Linked DNA regions of Homo sapiens. The protein of the gene in region 1 binds, or shares a complex with, the protein of each later gene. Each region holds a gene or a part of one and is shown on either strand. Other genes may lie near its edges. The genes, in order: NCBP1 and NELFE. A codon is read from its position in the direction of its gene.

Region 1 (7,962 bases):
CATAGCGCCTGTCACTATATGATACACTATACTTTACTTGACTGTCTTCTCTCTACTCTAGAGGGGAGGCTCTATCTTTATATTGTCCACTGCTGTATGGCAAGTAATTAGGACAGAGCTTGGCACTGTTAAGTATTTGTTGAATAAATGATTTTATATATATATATATATATATATATATATATATATATGTATTACTTTCCATATGCTTGCTTCTATATATACAGTATATAATTATATGTAAAATATATATTAGAGTATATATTTATATAAAACTTATAATAAACAAACTTATATAATATATAAATATAAATTTATAATATATAAATATAAATTTATATAATATATAAATATATATAATACATTCTATTATAGTTTATATATATACACACACTCTATATATAGAGAGTCAAGCATACGGAAAGTCAGGGCAGTGACTGACAGCAGCTGACAATTGTCCAGAAATGCTCAGATGCATCTATTTAATTCTGACTGTAATAATTCCTACCCTATTTTAAAATAGCCTTCTATAATCCTTAAGCTTCTAAGATTTATTTTTTAAAAAATAGATTTTTAACTAAAAGGAAAGCATCCAAAATAATCTGATTCAGATCACTGTGTAGGGTAAACTCCAGCGATCGTTATCCAAATTGTGGCAACTGACAAAAATTTCAGATTTGCTGTATTATCAAACATGAATTGTATCTGCCTCTCCCACACTAAAATATCAACCATAAAAACCTTTGCTTAATGAATGCTTTGTTTTACTTGTCTTATTTACTCTGAGGTTCTCGCGGCAAGACCCAAATGGACAGTGATTTGGCTGCCAGCTGGTGTTAAAAACAAGCCAACTCCAAGAAAGTTATGTAAGTCTCCCAATAACCAAAGCAAAAGTTATTTTTCTACATATTAGCATTCCAATTCTCTAGGATGCCCTACAATGACATTTCCTCTCTCTTTAGGGATTACCTCTAAGTGAGAAAAAGGAAGCATTAGAACAACAAAGAAAAGAACAAAAGACTCAAGTTCTCCAGCCCCCAAGTAATGACTTGAGAAGTATATTAGTTTTTGACTAGTCAATTACAAAGCATATGAAAATTGTATTATCGGCGGGCGCAGTAGCTCACATCTGTAATCCCGGCACTTTGGAAGGCCGAGGCGGGTGGATCACCTGAGCTCAGGAGTTCAAGATCAGCCTGGGCAACGTGGCGAAACCCCGTCTCTACAAAAAATACAAAAACAAAAAAAAAATTAGCCGGGCGTGGTGGCCCGCGCCTGTGGTCCCAGTTACTTAGGAGGCTGAGGTGGGAGGATCACTTGAGCCTGAGAGGCGGAGGTTGCAGTAAGCCGAGATCGCGCCACTGCACTCCAGCCTGACAAAGAATGACACTCCGTCTCAGAAAAAAAAAAAAAAGGGAGGGAATTGTATTTTCTGTGCCTTGTACAGAGGTTACACAAGAAACCTCGTGTTAGAAATCAAAGCACGCAGCATAGTTATTTAATTTATACCTGTGTAGTGAAGAGAGCCCCGGACTGGATTCGCTCTTGCTGGTGTTTGGGAACTGACAGCTGTCCCTCCATCTTAGTTATGCTCAGTCTCTAGACCCTTAGGTGTCAGATAGAAAGCTGGACTAGAATATCCTCTCAAGCCATTCCTTCGTAGAAATCTGGTGTTTCACTATTAAAACTAAATGCATGCGATTCTGCCTCCACCTCAACTGCCACAACACTCAAGGAGAGACAAACGTTAGTAGATAAAATTTACTCAATTTAAAATGTCTGTTATGGGTTTTTTTCTTACATTGACAGCATCTGCTAACGTTTACCGCCTCTTAAGCGTTGGCAAATGATAAAACATCATTGTTGCTGATGTGTATTACCTCATTTAACCTTCACAAAAACCAGAAGATATAAATATCATTACTTCTGTATTACAGACTAAAGTTTAAGGAGATTTCATAACCTGGACAAGATCACCAAGTAAATGGTAGGGTCTGGCTTTGAACCTAAACCCTCTGGTTCCAAAGTCTCATCTCTTAACCACTACTATACACTCTCTTCAAAAAACAATACACTAAAATGTTAACAATAGAATTACTCTAAGTTTTACTTTTTTGGTGTGTGGATTTGTGTTTTTGACCGATTGTAAGGCTTATGTGTAATATAAGCATCTTTTTTTTGTTGTTGTTAAAACTAGAATTATTCCATCTTTATGAAGGCAACACTGATCTCCACGAGCACAATCATCCAAACGGAGATGGGAACCCCTGTTCTAACTCTCTCAGAGGCCTGAAGTTAGTTTTCTAGCACTCTCTCTCACACAAGGGAAATGCGCTTACGGCCAGTTCAAAATCTGCAGTAACCTGTGTCTGTTTATTAGGGACCTCTTGGGCGCAGGTAAGACAATATTCTTTCCCTGCAGCTTGAAAGAAGTGAAATCAACGGATAACCACTACCGGAACAGAGTTCAGACTGCAACTCATGAGATCTCTCAGTCCTTTCCTTCAGTGAATTCTTCCGAGCCCTTTTCAGGTGCAGCTTTGAAGGTTAAAACGAGACACTAGGACCAGTGGGTCCCTAAGAGGCGGCAGCACAGACACAGGTGTGCTTCCCTGCTCCGTGGTTTTACGGACGAAATTCTGAAGCATCCTTAGAGACCAAGGGTCTACCCATGGGGTTCACCAGGCCTTCTTTCCCGAGGATCGGCCCTTGACTCAAAGAACTGGGGCGGGGGAGAAGTCGCTTTCTAGAAGCCGCCCGACCACACCGCCACCATATTCTCCTCTTTCCCTCCGCGGCTCCCCGCACGTTCCCGGGGAGAAGAGCTTCCAGTCTCTTCCGTGGACACCCAAAGACGCCGAGCCTCGGCTCCCAACCGGGAGCGGCCTCCGTGGCCGGGCCGCAGGCACTCACCGTCGTTCTCGTCGCTGTGCCGCCGCCGCGACATGCTGCCCTCCGGTGCGCCGCGGAACCGAGAGGCCAGGCGGTAAGCGCTGCAGGAACTGTCTGGCCGCTGGCCGACGCAAGGACAGCTGCAAGGCGCGCGGATGGGCCGGCACGCAGGCGCACTAGCTCGCCACGGCCCCGGAAGCGCAGGAGAGGCCGCCGGGTGGGGCTAGGCGCTGCGACAGCCGGCGTGAGGAAGCTCAGTGGGCTACGAACGTCTGGCACACATGCAACCGCCCCCTCGGGCTGCCTCCGCCTGCCGGCTACTTCTTTCTCCCGCCTTCCGCTCTATGTCCTTCCGGGGCCACGCAGAAAGTGCCGCCGCTTTGGCCACTCAGAGCCCCCGGGCCGCGGTCGTCGTACGCCTGAAGGCGGGTCGTGCCGGCGGCCGCTCTAGTCTCCGCCTCCGCTCAGGCCGGTCCTCCGGGGCTTCTCAATGGTTTCCCGGTGGCCTCTCAATGGTTTTCCCGGCGGCCCTTGCGCCGACGCCAGGAGACTTCCGGAGCTTGGTGACGTCACGAGCGAGCTTTTCTACCCAAATACGCGGCGGGGGAATAGGCTCGAGGGCGGTGAGCAGTGACAATTGCTAGGCGGAGACAGTGCAGGGAAGAGAGACCTTAGAAAGGATCAGGACTGGCGGGTATGTGCTCATCTACTCCCACTTTCCGGCTTTTGCCGCCTTGGGAAAAGTGGGAGGAGAGGTTGGGCCAAGCTCGGCATGCGGGGTGGGGCCTGGGCGGGAGGCGGTGCCGCACGTGCCGCCCCTTGGTATGGAAAGGCCGGCCCTGACGCGAGCGTGCGGCTCCGGGCTTGCCGGCTGGCCGTCATTTTCCTTAAGTTGTTTGCTTAGGAAGGAACAAATGATTGTTTTAGTAATCTGTTTTCAAGGGTTATTGGGTACCTATATGCCTGTGTGTGAGCGTCCCCTCCCCTGATGTCTTTATGAGCACCATACTGGCTTATCTGCTTTGTCCATGGCCATCTGAAATTTCACTCTCCCGGCCTAATTCTCCTTCGGTCTTACCCATTTCAGTAAATGACGTCATCCGTCGGCCGCTTAATCCAAAAATTTAGAGTCTTTCTTAGCTCTTTTCCCTCTTTTTACATAACAATTATCTGTAAACCCTGCCTGCTCTGCTTTCAACACAAATCCAGAATCAGATCGTGTTACTGCTTTGTTTAAAAGTCTCCTATGACGGCCGGGCGGGGTAGCTAACGCTTGTAATCCTAACACTTATGGGAGGCCGACGCGGGCGGATCCGCTTGAGCCTAGGAGTTCAAGACCCACCTGGGCAACAAGGCGAACACCGTCTTTACAGGAAAAAAAAAAAAATTAGCTGAGCCTAGTGTTTGGCGCCTGTAGTCCCAGTTACTCGAGGGGAGGGTTGGGGGCCGAGGTGGGAGGATCCCTTGAGCCCAGGAGGTCGAGAATGCAGTGAGCGGTGATCGCACACTGCACTCCAGCCTGGGCAACAAAGTGAGACCGTGTCAAAAAAAAAAAGTCTCCTACGACTTTCCATTGCACACTCCATGCCATGGCCTGTGGGGTTCTACTTCTCCTCACTGTACTCCAACCACTCTTTCTGTTCTTACAATAAGTCAAGCTTGTTCTTATTTTAGGAACTTATACTATTTCCTTTACCTGAAGGTCTCTGGTTCTAAATCTGCGTGGCTGGCTCTTGGTCACTTAGGTCTCAGCTCAAATGTCAGGTCCTTAGTGAGGCCTTCTTTGGTTACCCAATCACTGTTTTATTTCATTCAACGAATATTATATTTATTAGCATTTAGCACCTCCTAGGTGCCAGGCAGAGTTCTGAATGCTGAGGATGTAGAGGTGAACAAAGGAAAACCCCTGCTCTCTTGGCGCTGATATATTCTAACGACCCATTCAGGAATACCCACAAATAGTGCCATCATAGGTAGTGAGCAACGGGAGAGTGGTAGATGAGATCAGAGAGGTAGGGGGAAGGTGCTCTGTGAGGACTTTGGACATTATCCAAGTGAATTGAGAAGTCATTGGAGTATGATTTTTTTTTTTTGAGACAGGGTCTCGCTCTGTTGCCCAGGCTGGAGTGCAGTGGCACGGTCTTGGCTCGTTGTAACCTCTGCCTTTTAGGTTCAGGCAATTCTTGTGCCTTAGCCACCCAAGTAGCGGCAATTACAGACATGCGCCACCACACCAGGCTAATTTGTATATTTTTAGTAGAGATGGGGTTTCGCCATGTTGGCCAGGCTGGTCTTGAACTCCTGGCCTCCCAAAGTGCTGAGATTACAGGCATGAGCCTCTGTGCAGGGCCAGTCTGACTTATTTTTTTAATAGTTACTTCTCATGCTCCCAAAGGAGGAAGATAGTTCAGCTTTTGCAGTAATTCTAGCTGCAAATGATAGTAGCTTGAACTAGGGTGGTAGTAAAGATGGTGGTGCAAAGTGATCTGATTGGATTGTACTTCAAAAGCAAAGCTGGCCAGGCATGGTGGCTCACCCCTGTAATCCTAGCACTTTGGGAGTCCGAGGTGGGTGGATCACAAGGTCTGGAGATTGAGACCATCCTGGCCAACATGGTGAAACCCTGTCTCTACTAAAAAAAAAAATACAAAAATTAGCTGCGTGTGGTGGCGTGCAGCTGTACTCCCAGCTACTCGGGAGGCTGAGGCAGGAGAATCGCTTGAACCTGGGAGGCGGAGGTTGCAGTGAGCCGAGATCACCCCACTGCACTCCAGCCTGGTGACAGAACGAAAACCGTCTCAAAAAAAAGTATTTTCTGAACAAGTGAATGATAGTGTGAGAAAATAAGGAGTCAGGAATCATCCCAAAGTTTTTTTTGTCTGAATAACAGGAAGAATAAAATTGTCTTTTACTCAGATAAGGAAGACTGGGGAAGACGAAAGTTTGGTTTTGAACAGTTGTATTTGAAGCTGAAGCTAGCTGGCTTCACACACAGTGTAAAATTCACACACAGTGGGGTATATGAATTTGTAGTTTGGGAGAAAGGCCCAGGTTGAAGATATAAATATGGAGTCATTTATTATATAGTATTCTAAACAGAAAATTTCCTTTATGTTTCCCTTTTTTCTTTTCTCATGTAATTTTCAAATATTTACAGAAGTAGGGAAAATTTATGATGAAACCCCATGTACTCATCATCAACTTCAGTAATTCTTAATTCATGGGTAATCTGGTTTCATTGATATTACCTCCTCTCTCTCAATTATTTTGAGGCAAATATAGTTTTAAGTCCTTGGAAGTAGATGAGATCACCTGTAGGGTAAGTATAGATAGAGTGGTTCAACATTTAGAGGTTGGGGTAATAAGGAAGATCCAGCAAAGGAAACTGAGAAGCAGGGGCCGTTATCCCTAGCTGGTATTTTCATGATTTGTTTGTTTGTTTGTTTGTTTGTTTATTACTTACTTAATGTCTCTCCTTACCAGAATATAAGCTCCAAGAGAGCAGGTACTTCAACTGTTTCATTCATAGCTGCATTCCCAGGACTATTCCATGGGCCCGGCACATAGCAGAGGTGCCACAAATAATAATAATTCAGAGTATGTACATAAATCAAAATAAGCTGAGACTGAAAAAAGATGCAGAGTCGGAGGAGATCATTTTGGGGTGGTGGGAAAGGCACCCCACACTCAGGTGCAGAGACCTTGAGTCAGGAAAGAACATGGCTCATTTGTGGAACTGGGCATGGTCCAGTGTGGCTAGAGTAGGATATCTGATGGGGAATGGGGAGCATAGTCAGAGATGAGCCTAGAGTATAGGGAAACTAAGTTTTTCAGGCCTTCAAAGGAAGCAGTGACACAGGGTAGCAGACAAGACATAAGTGAAAGGTGACACTTGAGTTCAGTCTTCATATACATAGTAAGCATATGGGGAGGGAAAGAAGTGAAAAAGTAAGGGAAACAAAGCAGTGGAAAGCATAAATGCTGGGACAGACTACATCAGGTCATATAGAGGGAGATTGGAAAAGATGCTGGAGGTGGGACCGGATTGGATAGTAATTCCTTTCGACAATGTTACCTCCCAAATGTACTGCCCTTATAGGTAAATAAGTTATCTGTTTCTAGAACAATGCCTGGAACCTAGAAGACCCTCCATAAATATTTGTTGAATGAATTTTAATTTGGAAATGATATATGTACTTTCTCTACCTTTACAATAAAACAGCTTTGAGCATGGAGGAAGTGTGTTGAATAAGATTCTTCTACTTATTTTACTTCTGCCTGGAAGGCTTACAGGTTTGTGTAGAGTTAGGGATGTACTTTTTTCAGTGGGACTTTATATGAAAGACATTTTCATGAGAAAGGAAAGAGAAGCTAAAGAAGGTAGTATTTCTTCACCCAGTCTCTTCCACTTATTTTTCAAATACAAGAGAATTTAGGTTTAATAAATCTGTATTACCTTGCCTTACCCTTATAACAAAGCTCATTTTGAGCCCCATGAAAGCACCACTTAGCTGATTCAAATGCATTTTATGTGGTGCAAGTGACATCTTAATTTATGAATCCAAGGAACAAAGGTCCTTTATAAGAAAGTTGGTATTGCCTGTGTGTGTCTGTGTATGTTTAGTCTCCATCAGTCCTATCCAGCATTGTTAACAAGCAGTGTGTGTTCCCCCACACATAAACTGCTCCTTGTTGCCTTCACCTGGTTGAGGTACCCTGTAGGCAGAGTTGTGAATTGGCAAAGTTTGTCACCAGTGTCTCCCACCTTCCTTTCTCTCATTCTTAGTGGTGCTTTTTCTGCTCCCTCTTGTGGAGTTTGGGACTACTTTGCATGTTACTATTTTCAGAACCTTCAGTGTCCACCTCTGGCTGCCTCCTTCAATATTGTCCTGAAGAAACTAACTTTGCCAGTTCACTAGTAATATGAAATAACCAGTTGTTATGTTGTGGGGCAGGAATTTGGACAGGGCACAACAGGGACACCTTGTCTCTGCTCTCAGCTCAGAGGCCAATCTGGAATCTGAAGGGTCTAGTGGTTGATGCTGGCTGTCAGCTGGAGGCCTCTGTTCC
Region 2 (4,463 bases), on another chromosome or scaffold:
CCTGGGTGACAGCGAGACTCCGTCTCAAAAAAAAAAAAAATTAGCAGAATGTGGTGGTGCACACTTATAGTCCCAGTTACTGAGGAGGCTGAGGCCAGAGAATCACTTGAACCCAGGAGGCAGAGGTTGCAGTGAGTGGAGATCACACCACTGCACTCCAGCCTGGACGACAGAGCAAGATTCTGTCTCAAAAACAAAACAAAACAAGCCACAATGGCAGGTGCGGCAATGGCTCATTCCTGGTTAATTTCAGCACTTTAGGAGGCCGAGGTAGGAGGATTGCTTGAGCCCAGGAGTTTGAGACCAGCCCTGGCAACATAGTGAAACCCTATCTCTACAAAAAAAAAAAAAAATACAGAAATTAGCCAAGCATGGTAGAGCACATCTCTAGTCCCAGCTACTAGGGAGGCTGAGGTAGGAGGATTGCTTGAGCATGGGAGGTCAAGGCTGCAGCAAGCTACGATTGCTCTATTGCACTCCAGCCTGGACAACAGAGCAGGACCGTGTCTCAAAAAAAAAAAAAAAAAATAAGTAAAACCACGTCAAATAAGAAATGTATGTAGAATTAAAAGGGAAGAAAAGATCAGAGGAAACCTAGAAGAGGGTGAGGGAAGAGGAACACCTCTGGTCCATGGTTGGGCAACCTCCTGCTCCACACTGAGGTAGGTCTCTCACCACTCCAGGACCCCGAGAAGGGACCAGTCCCCACTTTCCAGCCGTTCCAGAGGAGCATATCTGCTGATGATGACCTGCAAGAGGTAAAGGCTCCTAATTTCTGTCCCTGAGGGGTTGGGGATGGAGGAATATGAGAGACAAATATATTTTGGACCACATGTCAGCAACTGGAAATCATCTTAACTGTTCTTGGTCTCTTTTACAGTCATCCAGACGTCCCCAGAGGAAATCTCTGTATGAGAGGTTAGAGAGTAGAGATAAGGCTGGGCCCATTTGGTGGAGTTGATTGCCTGAGTCCTTGGGAGGTTTGGGCTGTAGGAGCTGGGCTATAGAGGGAATATTGAGTCTCCACAGGGTCTGAGGGGAGAAGGTAAAACCCCCCTTTGATCTTCAGTCTGCATCTCCCCAGCTTTGTGTCTTCTAGTGATCGACTTCGAGAACTAGGACCAGATGGAGAAGAGGCAGAGGGCCCAGGGGCTGGTGATGGTCCCCCTCGAAGCTTTGACTGGGGCTATGAAGAACGCAGTGGTGCCCACTCCTCAGCCTCCCCTCCCCGAAGCCGCAGCCGGGACCGCAGCCATGAGAGGAACCGGGACAGAGACCGAGATCGGGAGCGGGATCGAGACCGGGATCGAGACAGAGACAGAGAGCGGGACAGGGATCGGGATCGGGATCGAGATCGAGACCGGGAACGGGACAGGGATCGGGAGCGGGATCGAGACCGAGACCGAGAGGGTCCTTTCCGCAGTGAGTGATTTTGGCTGGAGGTCAAGGTGACCTTAACTGAGGTTTATGTGGGTCCTACTAAGTGAAATGTGGCATGGTCTATGTCTTGTGACTATGATTTGTGCTCCCAAAGGGTCGGATTCATTCCCTGAACGGCGAGCCCCTAGGAAAGGGAATACTCTCTATGTATATGGAGAAGACATGACACCCACCCTTCTCCGTGGGGCCTTCTCTCCTTTTGGAAACATCATTGACCTCTCCATGGACCCACCCAGAAAGTAAGGATGACAACAGGGCATGATGAGAAGTCCTGGGAGAATCCTGGGGTGTGAGACCTGAGGGAAGAAGCTGCCCTCCCTGCAGCCGCCTATTATCACTGGGTTTGGTTGGGTCCAGAAGAGCCCCTTGGCTCTCCACTGACCGTGTTTTCTCTTATCCCAGCTGTGCCTTCGTCACCTATGAAAAGATGGAGTCAGCAGATCAGGCCGTTGCTGAGGTTGGAACTTCCCAAATCTGTTCTTCCCATCGCTTCTGCTGTTCTCATGTGTTCTCCTCAAAATACTAGATGCCAGGAAGAAGTTGGTTCCTCTTGATAAAGAAAGCCTCTCCCTATTCACACAGAAAAACTCACATTCTCAGATTCCTTATTCAGTCTCCTCCTAGGATAGCAACTCCTGGAATAACTTCTTTGGTTTATCTGTAATGTTTTCCTCCCCATCCTCTGCCTCCCCTCTTCTGCTTCAGCTCAACGGGACCCAGGTGGAGTCTGTACAGCTCAAAGTCAACATAGCCCGAAAACAGCCCATGCTGGATGCCGCTACTGGCAAGTCTGTCTGGGGCTCCCTCGGTAAGAATGGGATTCTTCCTTTCCCATCCTCTCCCCCACAGGCCATTCCTTTTGGTTCCCCCACACATCCTTGGGTTTCCTAGAGATGATCGAGGTCAGAGTGTGTGCGGAGGCTATGGGAATGGGAAGGAAAATTTCAGATCCTCTGTCAGTTAGAGGTAAAGAAAGGAGAGAAAAGGATTGAAAACAGCTTCCAAAGCAGTGACTGGAACAGGGAAGAAAGTGGGAGCTGGAGTGAGATTGGTGAGGAAGATGAGTGTCTCATGGGGCTTGTTCATTTTGAGATGGAGTAGAGTGAGTTTCATAAGTATTCGAAATCAGGGATCTGGAACTCAGGTGTGAGGTAAGGAAGGAAAACATAGATTAAGTCATCCACATCACAGGGTGGCTGCCAAACAATAGGATCATCAGGGAGACTCTGATTTCAGAGAAAAAAAAACGACCCAGGACTCAGTTTGAGGAGTACTCTGGGACTATGTTAGGAAACAGGACTGTTCACCTCACACCCCACATGTCCCCAGCTGTCCTGACATGTTAGGCTAACGTTGAGCCTAACGTTAGCAAAGGAGACAGGAGGAGGGGTCGGAGGGCTGGGAGCAGCACCGCAGGGGCCTGGGCCACTGAAGCAAAAGGACACACACTTTGAGAAAGAGGGAGTAGCCAGCAGTGTTGAGGCACAGAGATCACAGGATGGGAGTGGGTGAGAGAGATTCTCTGTAGCTCAAGGGTGGTGGGGATGGAACCATTGGATGGGGTGAAGAGAGTAACATGTCTGGTGGAGGGAGGAAAGAGGAAGGGGAAGAAACAGCTAGAGGCTTGAGAGAGAATGGTGAGGGCCAAAGCTACACCCTGAATGAGTTCTGGTGGAGCTAGTAGCATTTCTTAGTGTGAATAATCCATTTTCCCTGAAAGTAGATTTTCCTGGGAAAGGAGTGAGCAGAAAGAAGGGCTCAGCTACAGTGGCCCTTCAGGCAAAAGAAAGGAACTAGAATTGACCAGCATGTCAAAAAAGGGCTACAGAGGTTTTCTAGTTTTTAGCTTCTGACATACTGACTGTAAGTAGTGGGTTAATATCATTCACGTGTCTCAACAATGACATTTGGGATTTTTCTAAGAACAAAACATTCATCAAAATGTCCACTTATACTTTTCTTGGCCATGGGTTGGCACAAAGGAGCTAAGGAAGACAGGCCATCCTGGCCACCAGAGGGCAGCGTGGAAACTGGGCTTCCAGGGGCCAGTGGCCAGGAGTGAGGTGGTCAGGAGTCAGCCTCAGGGTCTGTTCTATGATCTCCTTTAGACCTTAACTGTTCCTCTCCTCCCTCCCTAGCTGTCCAGAACAGCCCTAAGGGTTGCCACCGGGACAAGAGGACCCAGATTGTCTACAGTGATGACGTCTACAAGGAAAACCTTGTGGATGGCTTCTAGGGAACAGAGCTGGATTCCTTGTGCCTCATATGCCCCAATGCTGGTCTCAGTAAAACACTGAGGTGGAAGCTTACACATCTCCCTCAGCCTCTGGTTTTTCAGCACTTGGGATTGGGGTTAAACCTTTAAAAACGGCTGTCAGGTTTGATCTCAGTGTAACAACATGGCCAGTGCCTGTTCCCCACTCCCTTGCCCCAAAAGGATCTGGAACACAGGTGTTGTCGCAGCTGTTTTAATTCAATCCCACGCCCCTGTCCAGCAGGAAACCCCTTATAGAAAACCCAAATCCTCATCTTGGAGTTTCTCCTTCAGCCAGGGCAGCACTTGAAAGAGGTTGATGTGAAAGTCTCGGGCGTGAGCAGGTACCTGCTTTTGCCGCTTCTGGTTTTTGCAGACATCCACTACTCCCCAGCTGATTACACCAACCTGCAGAGGCAGTGGGGTGCCATGGATCATTCAGTAGAATTCCTAATCCTGGAAGCATGGCTGTTCCTGCTTGTGTCTTAGCTGACCTAAAGGAATCAGACTAGGGACCCAGCTCAGCCTCGTTCTTGACACACGCAGGCAAGACATGCGGTCCTAAGGTGAGGCAGGCTCTGCCTACCTCGAATTACTAGCCACATGCATTGAGCTTTCCTGCTTTGGGGCCCATGCTGACCACTTGGCATCTCCCCAGATAGGAAAGGGAGGACTCACTTGAATGAAACGACTTCTCTTGTGAACTATCAAGGGGCCGCCAGAATCACCTGCAAGGAGAGGAGAAGCTGTAGAGAAAAGGACTGTTGGG

The links.
Region 2: the proteins of NCBP1 (region 1) and NELFE are in contact, whole or in part, in a crystal structure (PDB 5OOB), measured with the Homo sapiens proteins. Residues at the interface, in NP_002477.1 of Homo sapiens: Tyr461, Lys511, Lys557, Ser558, Ser560, His561, Ser564, Lys568, Ile609, Arg610, Gln612, Cys616, Lys647, Met648, His651, Glu705; in NP_002895.3 of Homo sapiens: Arg362 (codon at 3,617), Ile365 (codon at 3,626), Val366 (codon at 3,629), Tyr367 (codon at 3,632), Ser368 (codon at 3,635), Asp370 (codon at 3,641), Val371 (codon at 3,644), Tyr372 (codon at 3,647), Gly379 (codon at 3,668), Phe380 (codon at 3,671).

Annotation. Positions count from the first base shown.
Region 1 is NC_000009.12:97,628,867-97,636,828, reverse strand, and holds the start of NCBP1 (nuclear cap-binding protein subunit 1), read right to left. Parts: upstream 3,009-7,962; 5' UTR 2,948-3,008; coding exon 2,914-2,947; intron 1-2,913. UniProt on the Homo sapiens protein: Component of the cap-binding complex (CBC), which binds cotranscriptionally to the 5'-cap of pre-mRNAs and is involved in various processes such as pre-mRNA splicing, translation regulation, nonsense-mediated mRNA decay, RNA-mediated gene silencing (RNAi) by microRNAs (miRNAs) and mRNA export.
Region 2 is NC_000006.12:31,951,514-31,955,976, reverse strand, and holds the end of NELFE (negative elongation factor E), read left to right. Parts: intron 1-683; coding exon 684-758; intron 759-880; coding exon 881-918; intron 919-1,084; coding exon 1,085-1,422; intron 1,423-1,534; coding exon 1,535-1,679; intron 1,680-1,842; coding exon 1,843-1,897; intron 1,898-2,145; coding exon 2,146-2,248; intron 2,249-3,578; coding exon 3,579-3,676; 3' UTR 3,677-3,890; downstream 3,891-4,463. Other genes in the region: CFB (complement factor B preproprotein), read right to left, coding at 3,947-4,102, 4,373-4,422. UniProt on the Homo sapiens protein: Essential component of the NELF complex, a complex that negatively regulates the elongation of transcription by RNA polymerase II.